Homo sapiens: one gene and its partners. The protein of the gene in region 1 purifies or fractionates together with the protein of each later gene. This does not show direct contact. Each region holds a gene or a part of one and is shown on either strand. Other genes may lie near its edges.

What was found.
Region 2: the proteins of PASK (region 1) and NOM1 purify together in Homo sapiens (affinity purification with mass spectrometry, with the first as the bait; one large-scale study listed by BioGRID). This does not show direct contact.
Region 3: the proteins of PASK (region 1) and ZNF628 purify together in Homo sapiens (affinity purification with mass spectrometry, with the first as the bait; one large-scale study listed by BioGRID). This does not show direct contact.
Region 4: the proteins of PASK (region 1) and AP1G1 purify together in Homo sapiens (affinity purification with mass spectrometry, with the first as the bait; one large-scale study listed by BioGRID). This does not show direct contact.
Region 5: the proteins of PASK (region 1) and AKAP8 purify together in Homo sapiens (affinity purification with mass spectrometry; one large-scale study listed by BioGRID and IntAct). This does not show direct contact.
Region 6: the proteins of PASK (region 1) and EMILIN3 purify together in Homo sapiens (affinity purification with mass spectrometry; 2 studies listed by BioGRID and IntAct, with this or other methods). This does not show direct contact.
Region 7: the proteins of PASK (region 1) and FBLN7 purify together in Homo sapiens (co-immunoprecipitation; one large-scale study listed by IntAct). This does not show direct contact.

Annotation. Positions count from the first base shown.
Region 1 is NC_000002.12:241,135,973-241,139,472, forward strand, and holds part of PASK (PAS domain-containing serine/threonine-protein kinase), read right to left. Parts: intron 2,823-3,500; coding exon 2,682-2,822; intron 2,116-2,681; coding exon 1,981-2,115; intron 1,293-1,980; coding exon 1,032-1,292; intron 68-1,031; coding exon 1-67. UniProt on the Homo sapiens protein: Serine/threonine-protein kinase involved in energy homeostasis and protein translation. Phosphorylates EEF1A1, GYS1, PDX1 and RPS6.
Region 2 is NC_000007.14:156,963,212-156,966,711, reverse strand, and holds part of NOM1 (nucleolar MIF4G domain-containing protein 1), read right to left. Parts: intron 2,808-3,500; coding exon 2,686-2,807; exon of another isoform or gene 2,524-2,685; intron 443-2,523; coding exon 310-442; intron 1-309. UniProt on the Homo sapiens protein: Plays a role in targeting PPP1CA to the nucleolus.
Region 3 is NC_000019.10:55,482,302-55,484,987, reverse strand, and holds the end of ZNF628 (zinc finger protein 628), read right to left. Parts: coding exon 615-2,686; 3' UTR 501-614; downstream 1-500. UniProt on the Homo sapiens protein: Transcriptional activator. Binds DNA on GT-box consensus sequence 5'-TTGGTT-3'. Plays a role in spermiogenesis.
Region 4 is NC_000016.10:71,753,335-71,756,834, forward strand, and holds part of AP1G1 (AP-1 complex subunit gamma-1), read right to left. Parts: intron 2,826-3,500; coding exon 2,685-2,825; intron 554-2,684; coding exon 499-553; intron 1-498. UniProt on the Homo sapiens protein: Subunit of clathrin-associated adaptor protein complex 1 that plays a role in protein sorting in the late-Golgi/trans-Golgi network (TGN) and/or endosomes.
Region 5 is NC_000019.10:15,369,788-15,373,287, forward strand, and holds part of AKAP8 (A-kinase anchor protein 8), read right to left. Parts: coding exon 3,064-3,500; intron 2,561-3,063; coding exon 2,431-2,560; intron 2,212-2,430; coding exon 2,165-2,211; intron 393-2,164; coding exon 359-392; intron 1-358. UniProt on the Homo sapiens protein: Anchoring protein that mediates the subcellular compartmentation of cAMP-dependent protein kinase (PKA type II).
Region 6 is NC_000020.11:41,359,462-41,361,640, forward strand, and holds the end of EMILIN3 (EMILIN-3 precursor), read right to left. Parts: coding exon 1,807-2,179; 3' UTR 501-1,806; downstream 1-500.
Region 7 is NC_000002.12:112,183,385-112,186,051, forward strand, and holds part of FBLN7 (fibulin-7 isoform 1 precursor), read left to right. Parts: intron 1-1,816; coding exon 1,817-1,955; intron 1,956-2,667. UniProt on the Homo sapiens protein: An adhesion molecule that interacts with extracellular matrix molecules in developing teeth and may play important roles in differentiation and maintenance of odontoblasts as well as in dentin formation.

The DNA of each region.
Region 1 (3,500 bases):
GCTGTAATGAGCTGTTGTACGCAAGGTCCATGTAGCTGTAGAAACCAGGAATCAGGAAAGTGATATTCTAGAAAACAAAGCAGGGACATTTCAGAACCTGGAGGATCCACGCTGACCCACTGGACCGTCCCCCTGGGGGAGGAATGAACACAAGGAGAGCCAGTCCCTGAGGGTTCACCCTTAAGGTCAGGAAAGGCCTCGGGCCAAATGCCCTTCGACGCACCTGAAGCCCCTCAGATGCTCAACATGTGATCTGTGATTTTCCCCTTAAGAAAAAGGTAAAAACATACTCTGCGGCAAGTTACAGTGACATCGACACATCTTTGGAGCAGACATCTGGCCTTTGGCCCCATGTTTAGATGGATCTGGGAGCCTGTGTTTGCAAGCCTCACCTCACGCGGCTCACTGGTGGCCGGAACAGTGACATGCACCCAGGACAGAAGGACTGTGGGGCCTTCCTCCCAGGCCAGGAGCTGCTCTGACAGATGCTTCCTCTGAACCTGTGTGTGGCCCCCTCACCGGGACACTGCCCATAGCTGTAATGCCAGAACCCGCTCTAACCTCACAGAGGGCACAAGTGTCCATGCCCCCAAAATCCCTGCAAGGTCTCAATGCCCTCAGCTCCTGTGGGAACCCCTCATCCAGGAAGAACACTAACTGCTTTTTAACTAACTTAAATTTAACGTAACTACAATTCAGCTTAGCTACTTTTTAGTATTTCTACTAGGGTGAGAAATGAACCCCCGCAGTTGTGTCGTAAACCCTGGTCCATCAGTCAGACCAGATCTCTCAGGGCTTCGAAGCACAGTGCTCCTCTCCCTCCGACGGTGGTTGCTGGGGAAGGGTGGAGAGGAAGGAGCTTGGCAGCCATGAGCAGGGACCTCCCTCCCTGGACCCAAGGTCCTTCCTGGGTAAAGGAGCGAGCTGGAGAGCTTGCCGGGTGCGAGGCCTGTGCCACACGCAAGCCCGCACTGCAGAGCACAGCAGCTTCCTCCCAGGGAACGGGAGCCAGGCGCCCAGGGCAGCCCCACCTTGCCCAGGAGCTCCGTCTTTCCGTAACCAAACAGTGTCAGCGCGAAGCTGTGGTTGATGCCGTGGATGGTCCCATCCGGCAGGAGGGTGATGAGGCCACTGATGGTGCAGAACACCCAGACAGATGCCCGGTAGCCGCTCACAGGGGCCGCCTCACCGGTGGTCGCCTCCTCGCTGCTGGGTTGGGATTTCAGCTTTAAGCTCAGAGGGAAGGTGGTACCGTCCCTGGCTCTTCCAACAGACCTCTGAATCTTGAGATTCTGAAAGAAAGGCTTGTCGTTTGGCTTAAGCCGTGTTTCACGTGGACAGAGCACTGAGTCTGTGCTGCGTCCGACCCGACTTCTACCCCACGTCATCGGGGAAGGTCCCCAGGACATCTCACACCCACACTGCTCTGCCTTCCCTCTCCTCCCAGGCCCAGCTGGCCCAGGAAAGAGCCCTTCTGTGGGTGGGGAGGACTCAGTGTCCAGAGCCGCCCCAGGCACAGCAACCCCAGGGCAAGTGAGACACCCCAGTGAGGGGCCGGGCACCAGCAGGGAGGGAGGGAGGGAGGACTGTGGGGCTCAGGCTCGGGGCTCAGCCACGCCACTGGCAACTGTGCCATCCTTGATCTGGCACCAGGATACTGGCCCCACAGGCAGCACTACACCAGCTGCGCAGCTGTGGATGTTACCTCCCACCCCTCAGCCTTGGGCAGCGTCCCAGCATCCACCTCTGTGGGTGGCCCAGCTCCTGGGAGAAGACTCAGGGGACAAGAGTGGTCAGCTGGGAGACCACATAGGCTCCGGCCCTTGGTCAAGGCCTCAGCGCACAGGAAGCTCAAAACTGAGCATGTCCCACCCCTAAGGCCACCCTTGCCTTCAGAAACCCTTGGTCTGCGTCTCCAGTTATGGATTCAGAGCTAAGAACTCCACCCCATCACACAGTGCGGGAGGTCAGGAGCCCTACCTTTGGGATGTGCTGGCCAGAAGGAGGGAGCTGCACAGAAGGGATCAGGTCTGTGATATGCTGCCCAGCCACGTCCTCCCCAGACACGTACCCGTGAAGATGAGCAAAGAGACTGTCACATGACGTGACGGTGCCCTGGAGGAAAAGCCCCGTGCTTATCATAAAAGCTTCTTGTGCTCCAGCTGTAAATTTAACTAAGCTTCAATATGTTCAAGCCAAAAGCAAGACCCCAACATGACTTCTCCATCGGAAGGGCAAGAGACATATACACATGAATTTGATAAGAGCTTCATCATCTGTCTCCTTCTACCAGAGACGTACCTAAATTGTGGGCCTTCTTGTTCTTCAGGAGCCTGGCCCACACCACAGCTCATTAATAACATCCCAGTTCACATATGAGGGCTGTCTCTAATGCCAGCTACTATCCTGGGGGGTTTACATATATTATCTCATTTAAATGTTGAAACAATCTTATGAGGAGTTATGATTATGCCCCAGTTCACAGGTGAGGAACTGAAGTATAGGAAGTTCGTTCCCTGCCCAAGCACACGCAATCAGCGAGGGTACCACTGGGCAGACCCTCCAGGCTCCTCATCCTCTCTTTCTTCCCAAAGGAATGAGACAGGGACCAGCACTTGCTGAAGAGGAGAACGACGCCGGCTCCAGCGTCCATGAGACATGAGGCAAAGTTGCACACTCACATCGCTCTGGAAAGCGACCCAGGTCGAGACCCTCTCCACGGGCTCCAGGACCACCACGCAGCATAGGCGGCGCTCCTGCCGCATCCTCTTCATCCACACAGACACTGGAATCTTCTCCCCACTACGGCTGATGATGTCCACCTGTGGAAACAGACAGGTTCACACCTGCATGCCATGAACCCAAAAGACCAGTATGGGTGGGGCACCTGCCTCCAGGAGGCCCAAACTCCAGGCACTGCAACGTTTTCAACTTCTGCTTACCTGATTTTCATTTCAGAAATTTACCAAAGCACAAACAAGATTTCCCATACTGAACATTAAAATCTCCAAGTGCAAGTTTTATCAAGAGAGTAGATTTCATTCTCAGTTCATGGTAATATTGCAGGGTGAAAAAAGCAGTATCTGTTATTTCTTAAAGAAACAGACACCAACACATGGTGAATATCTTAGTTTTTTTCTTCTTAGTAGTCAGTTTCTTGAACCAGTGATTTTCTGATACAATTGGTCCTAAGCCTGTGACATCAGTTCAGTTCAAGCAATGGGGTCTTCTGTGTGAAAGCCACACACTAGGTGGGAAACAGGCAACCTGGAGGATCTGGATGACTACTAGAGCCTCAGATCATACCCCAACCTCCACTGCCCTCCAACGCTACTCCCCCAGTCCCCGACCGGCTGACGAGGGGAAACCCTACAATCAGCCATGCCTTGGGCTTTTTCCATGCCTTGGGCTCAGTCCTCCACATCCAACTCAGCTCACCTGTCAACATCCAGGTTGGACACATGGCACAGGTGAGAGAATCAACACTGTCTAGGGAAATG
Region 2 (3,500 bases), on another chromosome or scaffold:
CCACAGCAAGGGGCATCAGAACAGACTGGTGCACTGTGAACCGACGAGGTGCTCCTGCTGGCCTGGCCACACTGCCTGCATCTGTGGCAGAAGCAGGTGACATGAGGACATGGTGGACCCTTGACACTCCCCTCTAGCCCTCCCACTTCCGCTCCCAGTGAAGGTGGCCTGGCAGCCAGCGTGGACCAGGTGACGGGGATATCAGGGGCCTCCTGACTTGGGGAACTCCTTTGCAGGTGGGTTGAGCCAGGTAGCCTGTGTAGAAAAAATAGTAGAGCGGACGTAACTGGTGCCTCCGCACTAAGCTACCTGAAATCTCCTTTCATATTCACAGAATTTGCTAGCCAGGAAAGCATAGAAGGGATTGTAAGTTTTCTCTTGAAGGCAGCAATCCATGAGAACGTGAATGATTTCTCTCTCCTGCTGATCCTTAAGTCCAAGCCTAGAAAACAGAACAGCAATGACTGGAACATCACTCGACTTCCAAAGTTTAATGGCTGATACCTTTCAGGGGAACATCTTCCCGCCTGGAAGGGTCTGGTTAGAGGCGAGCCACGTAAAGGAGGTGGAGGCAGCGGCAGACACCAGCTAGGGGCCCAGCCCTGTCACAACCTCTCTGGTCCTCAGGTTCTCCTACAATGTGGCAAAATGTCAGAGGAGACAAGACCATCTAGGGGGTCCCCCGTCGCTGCAAAAGTCGACAGCTGTGCCCGGCTGACAATAAACTGACTCAATCGTGTGTGCCCTTAGAGCTGGTTCCTGCTATGGCGATGACTTCACATTTTCTTACTTTTTTTTTTGAGACAGTCTTGCTCTGTCACCCAGGCTGGAGTGCAGTGGCATGACTTCAGCTCACTACAACCTCCATCTCTCCGGTTCAAGTGATTCTTGTACCTCAGCCTCCCGAGTAGCTGGATTACAGGTGCCACCACCACCCCCAGCTAATTTTTGTGTTTTTAGTAGAGATGGGGTTTTGCCATGTTGGCCAGGCTGCTCTCGAACTCCTGACCTCAGGTGTTCCACCCACCTTGGCCTCCCAAAGTGCTGGGATTACAGGCATGAGCCACGGTGCCTGCCGTCGTTTGTAAAACTTGAGTTAGAGCTCACACACAGTAAAACCTATCCTTTGTAGTGTAGAGTCCTGAGTGTGGATAAGCCCATATGGTCAGGTCACCACCGGCAATGCCGAAACAGAACTCTCCATCACCCGTGAGAACCTGGGGCCGTGAGCCACCCTTGCCGTGGGCCACTGCTAATCTGCTTCTGTCCCTCTAGTTTTGACTCTGCCTCTGTCACACAGATTCAGGGCAAGGTGGCTTCCTGCACGGCAGAATACACTCGAGAGTCACCATGCTCTTGGGGCCTTGGGAGTTTGCCCCTCGTGATGCCAAGTAGTAAGTATCCCTTAGACGGCGTCTCATGGTTTATCCTTTCCCCAACTGAGGGGTATGTGGGCTGCTTCCAGTTTCTGGTGAGATCCGAATACGGCTGAGGCTGCCACCTCTGCACAGAGGCAGACACTCTGTACCTCAGGAGAGGAGCACCAGCTCCACTGCAAACAGCACAGCCCCACGTAGAGCACTCAGGTGAAGGCAGCGCAGGCGGCGAAGGCGGCCCAAAGAACCAACTGAGTTTCAGCTGCATTGATTATCAATTCATGTTGATTAAAAGCTTAGACTCATAACTCATGATTTTGAGGAATAAGAATGGGAAAAACTATTGTTTAATACACGTAGTTTGATAGGCCAAAATTTTCAACACATGAAGTCAACCAGAGGAAAAATAAACGAAGTCCTTCGAGTACAAAGGATAAGCTAGACCCGCTGACTAGAGAATAAGAGTTCTCCTCAAAAGAGCCCTTTTAGAGACCAAGGGTGACTAGGGAGATGGGAGGTTTTCGGCAAAACGGCAAGGCCACAGAGAGGCAAAGGGAACTCAGGACTTCCACTCCAACTAGAAACTCTAGTTTAGAAAATAAAACCCTAATTATCAGAATCCTAAAAGGAACCATGTTCTCCCTGTATTTCATCCTAGTTTGAAGCAAATAAAAGAATATGTATTAACATTACATTGTTTAGAAGTACCTCATAAAACTACACAGGTACATTTAAAGATTTTTTTTTTCTTTTTAAATGAGATGGGGGTCTCAGTATGTTGCCCAGGCTGGTCTTGAACTACTGGGCTAAAGTGATCCTCCTGTCTCAGCCTTCTAAGTAGCTGGGATTACAGGATCTTTAAAATCTTATTACAACTAATTATACAAACTATACCAGGATGTTTTAAATGAAGAATCAGAATAGCTTTATTATGAAGATTTATGTATTTTTAAGCAATTCGTGACAACCAACAGCCACTGACAAGGTCATCAGATACTTTCAGTCAAAACTCCCCAGTCTCCAGCCTGAGCAACATGGCAAGACCCTGTCTCAAAAAAAAAAACCCCAAACCCCCAATCTTTATATATCATAAAATGTTCTAATGAGGAACTACTAGAGGCAAATTAATAGGAACATGACGACTAACCCAGAGATGCACGAATCCAACAGCGTGAGCGGATGGTCATGAGAACAGCCCAGTCCTCCCTAGGCAGCATCAGACTCAGTCGTCCAAAACTCAAAAAGCAAATCAACTTACTTATTTTACAGCATCTCATTAATAGGTCAAAATGTGCACACAAATGCTTACTTCAGAAGCTTTTCAAAAGCATCCAAAAAATCTTCACTTGTCATTATTGTGCAGAATATGTTTCTCCGGATGTCTGTGTTCATCCTCTGCTTCCGGGCGAGTTCTAGGATCTTTGAACTGACCTGGAAGCACGATGAATGGACAAGTCATACGCATGTCTCCATGCAAACTGCCTCCCGAGAGGTGCCAAACTGTACTTCAGTGTCACTGAATAGAACTGTGAGGTCTACGTGGGCGGATGGCACCAAGTCCACTCTCGGGCAACGCCCCTCTGTGCAAGGGGAACACATAGTGAAGCCACAGCCGCTGGGGGAGAAAACACTCATGTGGGAGGCTTCTCAGTCGTGGTTCAACCTCAGGGCAAGCGACGATGAATAAAACAGAGAACCAGTCACTGGCAGAGCCTGGGAAACCGTGACCATGAGTGACACAGAATCTGGGACAGGGAAGGACATGAGGGGATAACGAGGGAAGTCTGGATGAAAAATGGGCTTGAATTTCCACAATGTGAAATCCATAGCCTGTAGCCTAGAATGCACAGCCCGGGGGGCAGCCTGAGGGGTCTCAGCAACGGACTCCTGCCCCGTGAGCGTTCAGGTCCTCATGCGCTCCCCTGCCCCGTGCCATTCAACTTTTAGATCTTTTAAAGTCCAATAAAAAGATACAACAGAAATGGAATAATTATATCACAATGTAATATTAATAGCAATTTCTGTAAGGCCTCCAGATAAACCTTGTACATTTCAGTGACCATTCAAGAACAGTAAGAGAGCTGCTCCAGGTAAAGCCAGGACCACACACCACACAGGGGGGTG
Region 3 (2,686 bases), on another chromosome or scaffold:
CGGGCGGCGGGCTGGGGACCAGCGCGAGCTCCCGCCCCACGTTCCCTCGTTGCTGAGCAACCTGAGCGCCGGGCGGCGACGCCAGCGCGTGGATTCTCATCCGTGCCGGGGCCTTCGCGGGAGGAGCCGGCCACGCTCAGCATCCTGGCGCCCGACTCCCCCATCCCCAGGGACCCCACTCCACCCACGGGGCGCCCGGGGTCGCAGAACCCTTCCGCATAAGGATCCCCCTACTTCTCACACGAGGGGGGCAGCGGGGCGACCTACAGTGAACAAGTAGCACTCCCTGGAGTCTGATGTCACCACCTCCCCACTATAATGACCCCTGCGGCCTTTTTTGGTTTCAGGACAGGGGAACTGAGCCCTACGTAGTGGCTGGCCCCAGGATGCAGAACAAGCCATCTGCGACCCAGGACGCAAGACTTAAGACTCCACGCTCCCAGGCGGGGGCTAGGACCATGACTTTGCCCCCTTCCCTCCCCCCAGGAAAACAAAACACAGGCGGGGAGACTCGGGTCTTTATTAGCAAGCCCAGCCTGCGGCACCCTGCCCCGCCCCGGCTGGCAGTGAGTCGGGGTCTCTGTGCGGGGCGGGAGGGGAATCACTGCCTCTCCTCAAAACGTGTGCACCAGCTGGACTGCGGGTAGAGTCTGGACAATCTGGATGGAGGGCAGGCCCTGAGGGGTCATAACACCAGGCCCAGCTCCTGCGGGGACCACTTGCACCATCTGGGAGGCTGGAGCCCCGGGGAGCCCCGCGGGGCCCGAGGCTGGGCCTGACGGCGGTGGGGCCAGGAGCTGCAGCGTGGCGGTGCCTCCTCCAGTGTTGCTGCTGTCCAGCAGCTCAGTGGCTGGGGCGCTGCGGATGATGAGGAGTTTCTGTCCGGGTGGGCCGGTGGCAGGCGGCTCCGTCAGCCCAGGAGGAAGTGTTTCTACCTCCTGTACGCAGAGTCGAGTCTGTTCGCCATCGGCCCCGCTCAGCACCAGCACGCTCTGCAAGCCCTCGTCCGTCTGGAGTGTCTCAAAGAGGACATCCTGGACCACACCAGTGCTGGCCTCGCCATCCCCCGCCTCCCCGGGGCCCGGGCCAGTGAGCAACTCCTCAGCTGCCCCGCTCTGAACAACCAGCAGGTTGGGTGCCTCAGTAGCCACAGCTCCCCCACTGGAATTGGAGAGCTGGCCGGCCACGGGCTGGAGCTGGACCGTGGTCACCTCCTGTGCTGGCTGGAGCTGGACCGTGGTTACTTCCTGTGCTGGCTGGAGCTGGACTGTGGTCACCTCCTGCGCTGGCTGGAGCTGGACCGTGGTTACTTCTGGGGCTGGTCGGAGGGGCTGGAGCTGCACCCCACTCATTTCCTGTGGCCCTGCCTCCCCACCCCCCACATTCTGCAGAACGATGAGGCTCTGCCCTGTCCCGCTGGCCCCAGCGCTGGCCGCTCCCTGCACCCCTAGACCCCCAGGGCCTGGCAGCCAGACCACTCCCGCCCCCTGGCCCGCTTTCCCCACTGCCCGCGGGCCCTGCCTTGCACGGCCGCCCCCAGCCCCAGCACTGGAGGAGGGCAGCAGGATGAGCTTGGGAGGTGCGGGAGGGGGCGGAGGTGTAGGGGGCTGCACGCTGCTGGGGATCAGCTGGAGGCCCTGGGCAGTTTGCACCAGGAGGAACGTCTGAGAGTTGGGCGCTGCTGGCCCCAAGCTCGGGGCCTGGGCCGTGCCCCCCGCCACCTCGAGGGAGAGCGTGGCCTGGAGGTGGGGCAGGACGTGGACATCTTGGGTGGCTGGCGGGGCCCGCGCAGCAGCCAGTGGAGCAGGGGGCTGGGGGCCGGCGGCAGGGGCTGTGGTGCTGGGAGGCGTGTTGGCCGGGGCGTGCGTCCTCAGGTGCCGCTGCAGATAGGCGGCCATAACGAAGCCGCGACCGCAGATGGGGCAGGTGAAGGGGCGCTCCGCCGAGTGCGTGCGCTGGTGCAGCAGCAGGTTGGAGGAGTGGGTGAAGGTCTTGGGGCAGAGCGGGCAGCGGAAGGGCCGCTCGCCCGTGTGCACGCGCTGGTGCTGCCGCAGGTTGGAGGTCTGCGCGAAGCTCTTGCCGCAGACACCGCAGGCGTGGGGCCTCTCGCCAGTGTGCACGTGGCGGTGGCGACGCAGGCACGACGTGTTGCGGAAGGCCTTGCCACACTCCCCGCAGGCGTAGGGCCGCTCGCCAGAGTGCAGCCGCAGGTGGTACTGGTAGTGGGACGACCACTTGAAGGTGAGGCCGCACTGGCCACAGGTGAAGGCCCGCAGGCCCGTGTGCACCCGCTGGTGGATGGCCAGCAGGGAGGAGCGCTTGAAGGCCTTGCCGCACTCGCCACACTGGTAGGGCCGCTCGCCCGTGTGGTCCCGCAGGTGGTAGCGCAGCCCGGAGGAGCCCTTGAAGGACTTGCCGCACTCGGCACATTTGTAGGGCCGCTCCGCAGAAGCGGGGGCGGACGGGGGTGGCGGCGGGACGGGGGCGGCAGGCGCCAGCGGTTCCTGGGGGCAGGTCACCTCCGCAGCCTCAGCCTGCGGGGGCGGGCGCCCGGCCGCGGCCTCTTCCACGTGGCACTGCTGATGCGCCAGGAGGCTGGCCAGCTGCGGGAAGGAGCCGTCGCAGCTGCCGCAGCGGAACGCTTGCCCGCCGGCAGCCCCGTGGCTGTGCTGGTGGCGGGAGAGCC
Region 4 (3,500 bases), on another chromosome or scaffold:
ATAAAATGCAAGCTCCCATGAGGCCTACATAGTCTGGCTCCGCTTATGTCTCTGACATCCATCCTACCATTCTCTGCCTCTCTCACTTTATGGCTTCACTTGCCTTCCTGTTGCTCTCCAAGCAAGCTATGCTTGTTCCTACCTCAGGTCTTTGCACTTAGGGTTCCCTCCGTATGGTACACTATTCCTCACGATCTCTGCATGGCTTGCACCTCATGTCTCTTAGGTCTCTACTCAAATGTTATCTCCTCTGAGAGACCTCCCTGACTAACTCTAATCTAAAACACTTGGCCAGTTGCCCTATATCCCACCTTATCCTGCCATCATTATATTCCTCCATGCTGCTTTAGGTTTTTCTTCATGGCATTTATTCCTAACTGACATTAATGTTACCTATTTACTTGTGAATTTCTTACCTCCCTGACTAGAACATAAACTTCATGATAACATCAGTATATCCCAGCACTTCGTATATGCTGTCTGAAAGAAGCTACTTACCGTTGTCAAAACACGCATAATTGTGTCTATATGCCATCGTTTGGAAGGTGCATACCTGAAAAAAACAATGGAAAGGGACACTTGGAACCAGTAAAATATACCGTTTTCAGTGACTAGAAAATCCTGCCCAAGCAGGGTGACTCACACCTGTCATCCCAACATCTTGGGAGGCCGAGGTGGGAGATCACCTGAGCTCAGGAGTTCGAGACCAGCCTGGGCAACACGGTGAAACTCCATCTCACCAAAAAATACAAAAATTAGCTGGGTGTGGTGGTGGGTGCCTGTAGTTCAGCTACTCTGGGAGGTTGAGGTAGGAGGATTGCCTGAGCCTAGGAGGTTGAGGCTACAGTGAGAAAGAAGAGAGAGAAAAGAAAGAGAAGAAACAGAAGAAAGAAAAGAAAGGGAAGAAAGAGAAGAGAAGAAAGAAAAGAAAGAAGGAAAGAAGATGGAAGGAAAGAAGGAAGGAAGGAAGGAAGGAACAAAAAAGAGAGAGAAAGAAAAGAAAGAAAAAGAAAGAAAGAAAGAAAGGAAGGAAAGGAAAAGAAAGGAAAAGAAAAGAGAAGAAAATCCTGTCCTACAGTCTTTTCTAGGTTCCCTGGATAAGTGAACATATCTGGAAACATTTCAACTTCAAATCTAGCAGCAAATGCCATTTCAAAGAGTGATAAAAAGGTATACAGTCAACTGACTTCAGTGGCTCATGCCTATAATCCCAGTACTTTGGGACGCCAAGGAGGAAGGAGTGCTTGAGGCCAGGAGTTCCACACAAACCTGGGTAACATAGCAAGACCCCATCTCTACAAAATAAAAATTAAAAAATTAGTGGCACATGATGATTTGCAGCTACAGTCCCAGCTACTCAGGAGGCTGAGGCAGAAGGATGGCTTAAGCCCAGAAGTCCAGGCTGCAGTAAGCTATGACTGGGCCACTGCCCTCCAGCCTGGGTGACAGAGCAAGACTCCGTTTCTAAAATTAAAGAAAAAAAAAAAAGAGGGTACATAGTCAAACTCAGATGTTTCCCATAAGATTGCAATAAGAGTTGCTAAGCTGAGAAATGAGATTTGTTTTCAGTTTCAGAGAAAATGAATCATTCAGTCAGGGCAGGAGACGATAAAGAAGAAAGAAGAAAAGGGACTGTTTTCAGACCAAGACAACATTTGGACTAAAAACTTGTTTCCTTAAATTCAGAGTGGAAAGAAGAGAAAGAATAGCTGTACTACTAAAATCATAAGGTACTTCCTCAAAATTCTGCATAGAGCTGCAATTCAGGTGCTGTAACTGTTCTATTGCCTTTATTAAAACAGCATCACAGGCCAGGTGTGGTGGCTGATGCCTGTAATCCTAGCACTTTGGGAGGCTGAGGCAGGCGAATCGCTTGAGTCCAGGAGTTCGAGACCAGCCTGGACAACATAGCGAAACCCCATCTCTACAAAAAGAAAAAAACAAACCCAGAAATTAGCAGGGTGTGGTGGCGTAAGCCTATGGTCCCAGCTACTTGGGGGGCTGAGGCAGGAGGATCCCCTGAACCTGGGAGGTCAAGGTTGCACTGAGCCGAGACTGTGCCACTGCACTCCAGCCTAGGTGACAAAGTGAGACCCTGTCTCAAAAAAACCCAAAACAAAAAAAACCAGCATCATAGATGAGAGGTTAAAGAACAGATAAAGGAGAAGATTTCATAAAAGTGTGAAATTTTTTTGGTCTCAGCATATTTAAATGCTGGCTATAATAGCCTTCTCCAAGCTAATTTATAATTGAGGGTTTGAAATAAATGTTATGTGTTTTAAACATATTTAAAGTAGTTTCCCCATTTTTTTTTTTTTGTTTTGTTTTTGAGATGGAGTCTTGCTCTGTCACCTAGGCTGGAGTGCAGTGGCATAACCTTGGCTCACTGCAACCTCCACCTCCCAGGTTCAAGTGATTCTCCTGCCTCAGCCTGCCGAGTAGCTGGGACTACAGGCGCGTGCCACCAGGCCCAACAAATTTTTGTATTTTTAGTGGCGACAGGGTTTCACTATGTTGGCCAGGCTGGTCTCGAACTCCTGACTTCATGATCCACCTGCCTTGGCCTCCCAAACTGCTGAGACTGCAGGCGTGTGCCACCGCGCCCAGCCCCCTCCCCATGTTTTAAAGACACTTCCAAAAGTTCCAAGCAGACTTTACCAATAAAGGTAAAAATTAAATCTTACTTTTCTGCAGCAAGAAAGATTCCAGATGCACAGTCTGCTTTAAATTCTGGCTCACACGAATCCAGAAAATAAAGTAATTCTTTCATCATGCCTCGGATATTATTCCCATTTACCAGGGCAAAACTCAATTCCATTGCACGCCTTGCAGAAGGGAAAAATTAAAAACAGTTAAGAAATTTATAGTGGAAATGAAACAAAGACCCAGGTATGCACTCTGTGAACACCAAGTACTGCCAGATGTGCTGACGTCCTTGCACGATCTTGTGATCCCAATCTTTGCACACGAAATAACCAAGGAGATGTATTCTTACATAATCAAAGTTAGTTTTGATATTTTGAATCTTCATGCAATATTCTTCTTCAAAAGTCCCTACGAGATATACCACTAATGTCCAAACATGCAGCTTGGGTTCAACAGGCTGTTCTACAAAGGTGGAAGTTAGAATACCTGAGAGTCTCAAAAAGAGGGGCAACAAATAAATGTATTACCCAATAATAATACCTATCTGCCTCATTCCTTAAAAATGTGACATGTTAAGTCACCATATTCTACTTTTATTACACCCCACTCTGTCCAAACATGATGTAATATAGTTTATGTCAAAAGGTATGCAGAAAATTCAAATTAAAAACAAATTCAAGGCCGAGCGTGGTGGCTCACACCTGTTTTCTCACCACTTTGGGAGGCCAAGGCAGGCGAATCACCTGAGGTCAGGAGTTTGAGACCAGCATGGCCAACATGGTGAAAGCACTTCTGTACTAAAAATACAAAAATTAGCCGGGCATGGTGGTGGGCGCCTGTAGTCCCAGGTACTA
Region 5 (3,500 bases), on another chromosome or scaffold:
TCAGGGAAATGCACTGGCCGAGGAGGGCACAGAAGATGGGCTGGGGGCCTCTTCTCTCATGTTTCTCCTTCCCTACAAACTTCGACTGTGGTGGACACCCAAGGCTGCCCCCCATCCCCACTGCAGCCCACATCGGGTCAGGCAGACAGACCCGTTTCCAGTAAATGCTGCCCCAGACACTTTGAAGCAAAGTGTTGGCTGATCGCCACGGTCAAGGCCCATCTGGTGGCTGCAGCCCCTCTTCCCCCACAGCCACGGGCCCCTCCATCCAGGCCCCTGGCTTGCTCAGAAGCTGGGCAGTAAGTGCGGGGCAGCTGGGAAGACACAGGAAAGCTGCAAGGGACACGGTGATGCCTACCTCTTTGCCTCCCAGAGTCGCAGAGTTCATCCTCCTGGAAAAGAGTATACACAAAGTCCGGCAGTGAGCTGGTGTGTCCAGACTCTCCACAACCAGCCCAGTCCCTGGCCACTGCCTGGTGGGCAGTCTCACCCAAGACCTAGGTTGCTATGCCACCAAGAATGAGCCACAGTGTGTTAGGACCAGCCTCCGGGGCTCAGGACAGGGCCTGTGTGTCCTGTTATTACTCCTAGTTGCCTTCAGAGATTCTGTGACAATCACCTTGCTAAAAAGCCATTCACCCACCCTCTCTCGGTTCCTCCTAAGCTGCAGAACTGCCTGCCCCATGACAAAGACCCACCCGTACAATTCTATGAATGGAGCCTGTTCACCAACCGTAGGGAGATAGAGTCTCACTTGGGGGATGCCAGTTCTGGCATTCTTCATAGAAAATGGGTTCCACCACGTTTCCCGAGCTTTTGTTTATATTTACCCAATGTCTTTTTTTTTTTTTTTTTTTTTTTTGAGACGGAGTCTCGCCCTGTCTCCCAGGCTGGAGTGCAATGATGCAATCTCAGCTCACTGCAACCTCTGCTTCCTGGGTTGAAGCAAATCCTCTGCCTCAGCCTCCCGAGTAGCTGGGACTATAGGCGCATGCCGCCACATCCAGCTAATTTTTGTATTTTCAGTAGAGACGGGGTTTCACCATATTGGCCAGGATGGTCTCAATCTTGTGACCTCGTGATCCACCCGCCTTGGCCTCCCAAAGTGCTGGGATTACAGGTGTGAGCCACCGCGCCAGGCCTATATTTACCCGATGTCTTAATAACAATCACGTATAGATAAAAACGATTCAACTGAGAATCTGAACAGAGCTGACTCCTTAGGCAGTGAACATACGGCTAAATTAACAATCAGCAGGTTTACAGAGATTCCTAATCTCAAGACCAGCAAAATAGGGATCAAGTGAGACTCTGAAAACCTGAAAAGCCACCATCTCCTGCCTGTTCCCTGCCTGTGTGACTCTAAGGACTTGGGGAAGGCCCTCCTTCCCACTCTGGACCTCCAGGCCCTACACCTCCAACTTGGATCAGAATCTACACTGGGGTGGCTGAGGCACCTCCCCAAGAGCTTGGGGTGGTCCCGGCTATGAACTGGCCCCACGTGCTGCCTGCCTGTGCCTTGTTGTGAGGATGGAAGGATGAGGACACCAGTCAGCGGCACCCGGCACGGAGCTGGCGGCAAATGAGCCTCCAGCCTGTGCTTGGAGGCTTCAGCCCACAGTCCCTGCACTTACTGGCCTAGAGACCAGGGAGAGGAACTGGGAGCTTTTTTCAGAAAAGGAATGTTTGTTGTAAGTTGAAAACTTTTTTTTTTTTTTTGAGACGGAGTCTCCCTCTGTCGCCCAGGCTGGGGTGCAGTGATGCAACGTCAGCTCACTGCAACCTCCACCTCCCAGGTTCAAGTGATCCTCCTCCCTCAGCCTCCCAAGTAGCTGCTACTACAGGCAAGTGCCACCACTCCTGGCTAATTTTTGTATTTTTAATCGAGACGGGGTTTCACCATGTTGGCCAGGCTGGTCTCCAACTCTCGACCTCAAGTGATCCACCCACCTGAGCCTCCCTAAGTGCTAGGATTACAGGTGTGAGCCACCGTGCCGGCTAAGGTGGAAAACTTTTAGAAATCTAGCTAAAAGTCAGGGTCCTGAATCCACTCAGAGGTAGTCAAATCTACCATGGCAGCTGCTCCTGCCCCTTTGTGAGGAAGGGTGATTAAAGAAAGAAGAAATCCCACACTAGAGGCAAAAGGGCTGCCTGGTGGACTTACACCCTTGAATTCTTCATCTCCTGAGCGGAAGTCACCAGCTGCGTCATCTGCCAGACACAAAGAAAGGAAAAGTCAGTCCCCGGAGAACGGTCCCATCCGGTTTCCGCCCTCCCAAGCTCGCCATCCAGGGTGAGTCTGCCCTGACCACAGTGGGGTTGAAACATGCCACCTGCGAGTGTCCACGACACAGATGGGGCAAGCAGAGCCCCCAGCAGGCAGCCGACCCATCCTACATCTGTCTGGCCCACCTGGCCCCCAGGACATACCATTTTCGGAGAAATCTCCTTCACTGTCAACCCGGGCCAGTTTGGTGTCTGGCTCCTCGTAAAGTTGGAACTGCTTCCGTTTCCTGCCCGTGCCATCTGGTCCGAAGCGGTCAAACCCTCTCCTCTTGGGCTACAGACAACAAGCACACCCCATGAGCTACTTACGAGGGCCATGAAGATGCCCCACAGAAAAGAACAAGGAGGTTGTAGGATCAGACAACACAGGCACAAAAGGTCTTTTCAAAAAGCAAAGAGACAACATAATTTGAAACTAAAAAGAAAATCATGCTGAGTGAAAAGAAGCCAGGAACAAAAGGCCACACGTTTCGCGACTCCATTTGTGCAAAATGTCTAGAACACACAAATCCAGAGACCAGTGGTGGTTGTCGGGGGCTGGTGGGGGCGGGGAAGAGACAGGGGTGACTAATGAGAAGAAGTTTCTCTTCTGGTTGACATAAATGCTAAGATTAGACTGTGATGGTGGGGATGGTTGCACAATCCTGTAAATTAACTAAAAGTCGAACTGCGCACTTAAAAACATTTAAGTGAATGTTGAGATGGGGAAATTTTACCTCAATAAAGCTGCTAAAAAGAGAAGCGAAGGCGGCCGGAAGGAACCTTGCGAGGGCTTACCCGATCCCGATCCCGCATCCGAGGCTGCGAGCGGCCACATCCGTAGGGCATGGTGCTGTCATAGCCGCCCGCCCCCTGCATGCCCATCACGCCGTAGTCGGGAGCCATGGACTGGGAGAAGAGGGACGGAGGTGGCCGGCTGGGGGAGGGCCCTCCCAGGCCCCGTCCACCCACGTAGTTCAGCTCGTTCCAGGGCGTGGACAGGGGCTCAGAGGACGCAGCGGGGGGCACGAAGGGGTCGCTGCGCATGAAGGTGCCAGGGTTGCTCCGGTCCTGGAAGCGGCCCTGGCCCCGGCCCCGCATGAAGCCATCAAGGGAGCCCCGCTCCCGGGCTGGGTCTCGGCATTCACTGTACTGCCCCCCAAAGCTGCCATTGCGGTCGGACCCCAGGTCGAACTCATAGTCGTAGCTGTAGCTGGGGCGGTAGGGGTTGTGCT
Region 6 (2,179 bases), on another chromosome or scaffold:
ATATCTGTCTCCCTGTCAACCTGGGACCTTGCTGTAAGTCTTGATAGGACAGGGAGAAGAGGGAGGCCCTACCGAGGCTCGAGGCTTCAGTGAAGGGTGACAGCAGTGGGAGTGTGGTACAGCCTCTGGAAGGACACAGTGTTCTCCCCGCCCCTTGTCTGGGAGCCAGGACTGTACCCTCCGAAGCCAGACATCACTGCCAACATATCCCCCTTGCTGGTGCCCTGGCATCTCAGCACATGACACACACCCACACCTGCAGGCTGTGGTTCCGGCTTGGCCTGCTCCCCGTCCGGCTGCTGCCGCTGCCTCTCTCCAGACCTCGCTTAAGGACAGTCCCAAACTCAGCTGGGGCAGGTGTTGGCCTGAAAGTCCTCCCCCAGCCTCTGCTGGCCAGCTTGGTGCTCACAGCTGCTGGGTAAGCTCTTGCCTAAGGAGCTGTGGGAAGCAGGGCTGATGCCCCAGCAACCTCTCCTCCCACTGTCTTTGAAGAAAGTAGCTTTAGACCGGCTAAAAGCTTTAATCCAGAGCCTGCCCTACTCTGATAGTACCAGAGTGGAGGGCAGAATACCAAATGTCCAGGAACCAAAGGCAGGGCTGTGGGGACCTGAAGAGCAGCACAGTGGGGCCCGTGCTGCTGTGGGGGAAACTGAGGCTGGGAGCCTCAGCAGAGACCGGTGTCAAGAGTCTCTGGGAACTGCATAGGCCTGAGGAACATGCATTTTCAAGTTGTCCATTGATGGTTTCGTACCTGAATTTCTCACCTTTTGTGAACATCTTGGGAGGGTGGGGGTTTTGCAGGGGTGTTAAAAGCAAGGCTTGGAGCCCCTTTCCTCCAGCTGGTGGCTCCTTCTCAGGGCCTGGCCTCATTCAGGCCACTTTGTAGAGAAATGCCCTGACCTCGCAGGAAGGATTTCCCCACCCCCAAGTGGAAGGAAGAGGACAGTGTGGGCACCAGAGGGCCCTGGAAACATCTTAGGGGAAGGAAAGGAAAAGGATAAATTTGGAGTGGGGGGTCTCTAAACAGATTGCCTGGATTCCGTTCTTTCCTGGGGTTCTACAGCTGCCTAAGCCCTCACCTTGGGGGAGGATCAAAGGGAATAAAGAGAACTCTTGGCTGAGTCTTTGTGCTTCTGTTCTGTCCTGAAGGACACGTGAGGAGCCAGAAACATCTGGCAGCCTCTGGTCCTTAGTTCAGATACAACATCCATGAAGCTGCCAGGTGTGAGGAGAGTTCCAGTGGGCATCACCTTCCTGCACAAACCTAGTCCTGATGGCTGCGAAGAGAAGCCGAGGGGACAAGGAACAGAAGCCACCAAGGGCTGTGGACTGTTGCTTGTGGGCACAGGGCAATGCGGACAGGCCACTGGCTGTGGGCCTGTAGGTCTCTGCACAGTTGCTGAGGCTGGTGCTGACTGCCTGCAGGGTCCTCTCAAGGCCTTACATACGGACACTGATCAAGGCCAGTTTGCCACAGCAGCTGCCCCTGCCAGCCATGCTCAGGCCCTGCAGCTGGCTGTCCAGACACTGATTTGCTGACAGTGGAATGTGAACTCTCTCAAGTCTACCCTGGCCTTCAAGCATGACATCCTTGCCTTGACCGCTGTCCGGAACTGTCCAGTTTCTGCAGCACTGTGCATGGGTTTTGGTGGCTGGGACAGCCACGTGGAGGATTCCCTCAGTGGCCTCCTTAGTGCCATTTGGGCTAGCCAGGGAAGGCTGGAAGGCGCTGCTGGATAAGGCTGGGCTCTGGGGTGATGTTCCCCGAGTTGGTGGGATCTAGGGGTTGGGTCCTGGCCAGCCTGTCTAGTTGGCTTGCCCTGGCCGCACCTGCTCAGCCAGCTGGGCCTGGCAGTCCAGTAGGTCATCCCGGAGGCGGGCAATGTCCTGCGTGTGCTGGGCCAGCGTACGATTCAGCTGGTCCACATGGCTCCACAGGCCCTCTCTGGGCCTCAGTGGCTCAGTGGGCAAGCTGTCCAGGCCCGCGGCCAGCAGGCCCAGCCTCCTGCACGCACCCTCCACTTGTGCCACCCGCTGGTCAAAGTGTCCCACTGTGTGCTGAAGTTTCTGGGCTGTGTCCTGGCAGCGGCTCAGCCCACTGGCCACCTTGGCCACACCAGCCTTGAGTTGCTCCAGCTCCCCACGCAGGTTCAGGACCTGCCTGTGGCCAGCCTGAAGC
Region 7 (2,667 bases), about 130 Mb from region 1:
ACAGCACCAGCCTTGTCTGATGGTAGCTGAGGACAACAAGGGAGGCGGAGCACCCAGGGAGGGACAAGAGTCGGGGGCATCACTACCCCTGGCTTGTGAGGTACAGGAAGTGAGGGGGCTTATCAGAGCCTGAAAGATTGTGGCTCTGATCAAGGACACAGCCTCCATCAGAACCACATCCAGGCAGGTCAGGACTCCTCAGGCTGGGTCACTGTCATTTGCCAACCCCAGCTAAAAACCAGTCAGCCTCTCAGGTGCAGAGAGTGGGTTGGGGGGCAGCGGCGCAGATGGAAAATAACTGGCTCAGGTTTCACCCCAGTGCTGAATCCTGTCCATCAGCAGTGGTTTCCTGGAGGGCCGGGTTGAGGTTTCTGAGGCTGATTCCTGGCAGAGTGGGAAAGAACATCTTAAGTTGACAAGGAATGTCTGCAGCAGGGATGGGAGGCACCTAAGAGATTAGGAAGGATGTGTGCAGAGTGGGTTGGTTGTAGAACAGAGAGGCTGAGAACCCTCGCAACAGTCACCATCATCACTACAGGACAAGTCCCAGGGACACTGGGTGCCTAACAGGAAGCCTCCTGTGTTTCCCCACCTCCACTTAGGGAAAATACAGATGTCAGTTGATGTAGACATGCTGAATCTCCACATGAGCTGAGTCAGAGCACACATCTCAGGCCTGAAGCCCAAGTGGGATCATCCTGACCCTTGGCCCTTAAACCACCATGCTGCAGTGGGCCTTTCGGGGGGCTGGTTCTGCTCCTGCAGGCATACCTCACACTAGGAGGGTGGACAGGCCCACCTCCCCAGCTGGACTTCCCCCATGGAAACAGGACACAGAGGGGAGCCCCGCTGGCTCCAGATAACAGCTCTGACCCACCAAGGGAGAACGGGAGAAGAGAGGGCAGAGGGCTCCTCCATGGGCTGACGTGGGAATGTGAGGGGAGAGGTGGCTCCCCGGTGACATCCCATTGGGGCCCCGCTGCAGGGCTCTGAGGAGTGGGTGACCTGGGGCTGGAGCAGGAGAAGGCATCCAGATAGCCACCCACACTCCCTCCCTCCCACAGTGCTCACGAAGGCCCACCTGGGGTTGCTTGGGGTTGGGAGGGACGGCCTCCAGCTGGGGAGACTCTCTGGATGTCTGCAAAGGGAGCAGAGAACTCATACAAATCATGATATTGAGGTGTCTGCACTCGCATGGGGTGAGGCTGGCAGGGAAGACTTTCTAGAAGATTCTAATTTAAAAAAAGTGTGTGTATATATAGTATATATAGGTATATGGTATATATATGCTGTATATGGTGTATATATGGTATATATATGAATATGGTATATGTATATATATGTATATGGTATATATATATACACACACCATATATACCATATATACGTATATATGGTGTGTGTATATATATACCATATATACATATATATATATACCATATACATATATATACACACACACATATATATATATGAAGAATAACAGCCATGGAGGGTAATGGGGCACTTGGGCTGAGAAGCAGACAGGTCTAAGAGAAGCATTGTGACCAGTAACACTCACCTGGTGCTTTCCACCATCCTTGCCACCTGTCATACCCCAGGGAAAGAGGACAGGATCCCAGGGAGGGGCACTCCCTGGCATTTCCTCAGGGCCCTGATTCCACACAGTTAAGGAAGGCAGGCTTTCTGCTTTAAGAATAAGTGCCAGGAGCAGGGAGCACCACATTACAGGACCTGCAGGGCCTCTCATGTGGTTCTGTCTGCAATGGAGGGAAGGTCAGGGCGATTCTCACCTGTTGTATGTCCTGTATCTCAGATGTGGATGAATGTGTGGGCCTGCAGCCGGTGTGCCCCCAGGGGACCACATGCATCAACACCGGTGGAAGCTTCCAGTGTGTCAGCCCTGAGTGCCCCGAGGGCAGCGGCAATGTGAGCTACGTGAAGACGTCTCCATTGTGAGTATCTCCAGGGGAGGCACACCCTCACCCAGGCCTCCAAGTGTGGCTGGGCTGGATGCTTCCTAGAGGTTCTTGGGAGAAGGTACAGTTATACCATAGAAAGATGAGAGGCAGGAGGCTGGGAGGCTGGTGTCTCTGAATTTCCATTTCCGCTTAGTGGTTGCATTTAATGCGTTGCTGCTCTGGAGAAATAAGAACCCCATTCCCCATGGGAGTAATATACTAAGTGCACCCCCACTACATAGAGGTTGATGGGGTTGCTGCCACCCCAGGATGGCAAAGCCAGGGCAGGCACTGAAGGGAAGAAGCTGTTGGTGACATTACCCTGATAAACCCATAGCAGCCCAGGAGACAGGTATAGATCACATGGATTTGGGAGGTGACAGCATTCACATAGCCAGGAACTATAGACTCCCTTGAGTTACACTGCATATCCCGTGCACCCTGCATTATATCACTCTGCTTTTCCAATAGTACTAGAAGGTTCTACATCTAGTAACTGCAACTCTTAAACAGCAAGTAGAGCTTTTTTTTTTTTTTTTAAAGTTGGGAGATGGGCCTTTAAGGGGAATGACTACAACTATCACAAAGCACATACATTTTCCTCTCAAAAAGAGATCACAAGAGCCCTAGCGTTGTCTTTAAAATGAAGTAACAGCCATGGAGGGTAACTTAATTATTTGAATTGCTGTTGAGTTAAAGCAGATTA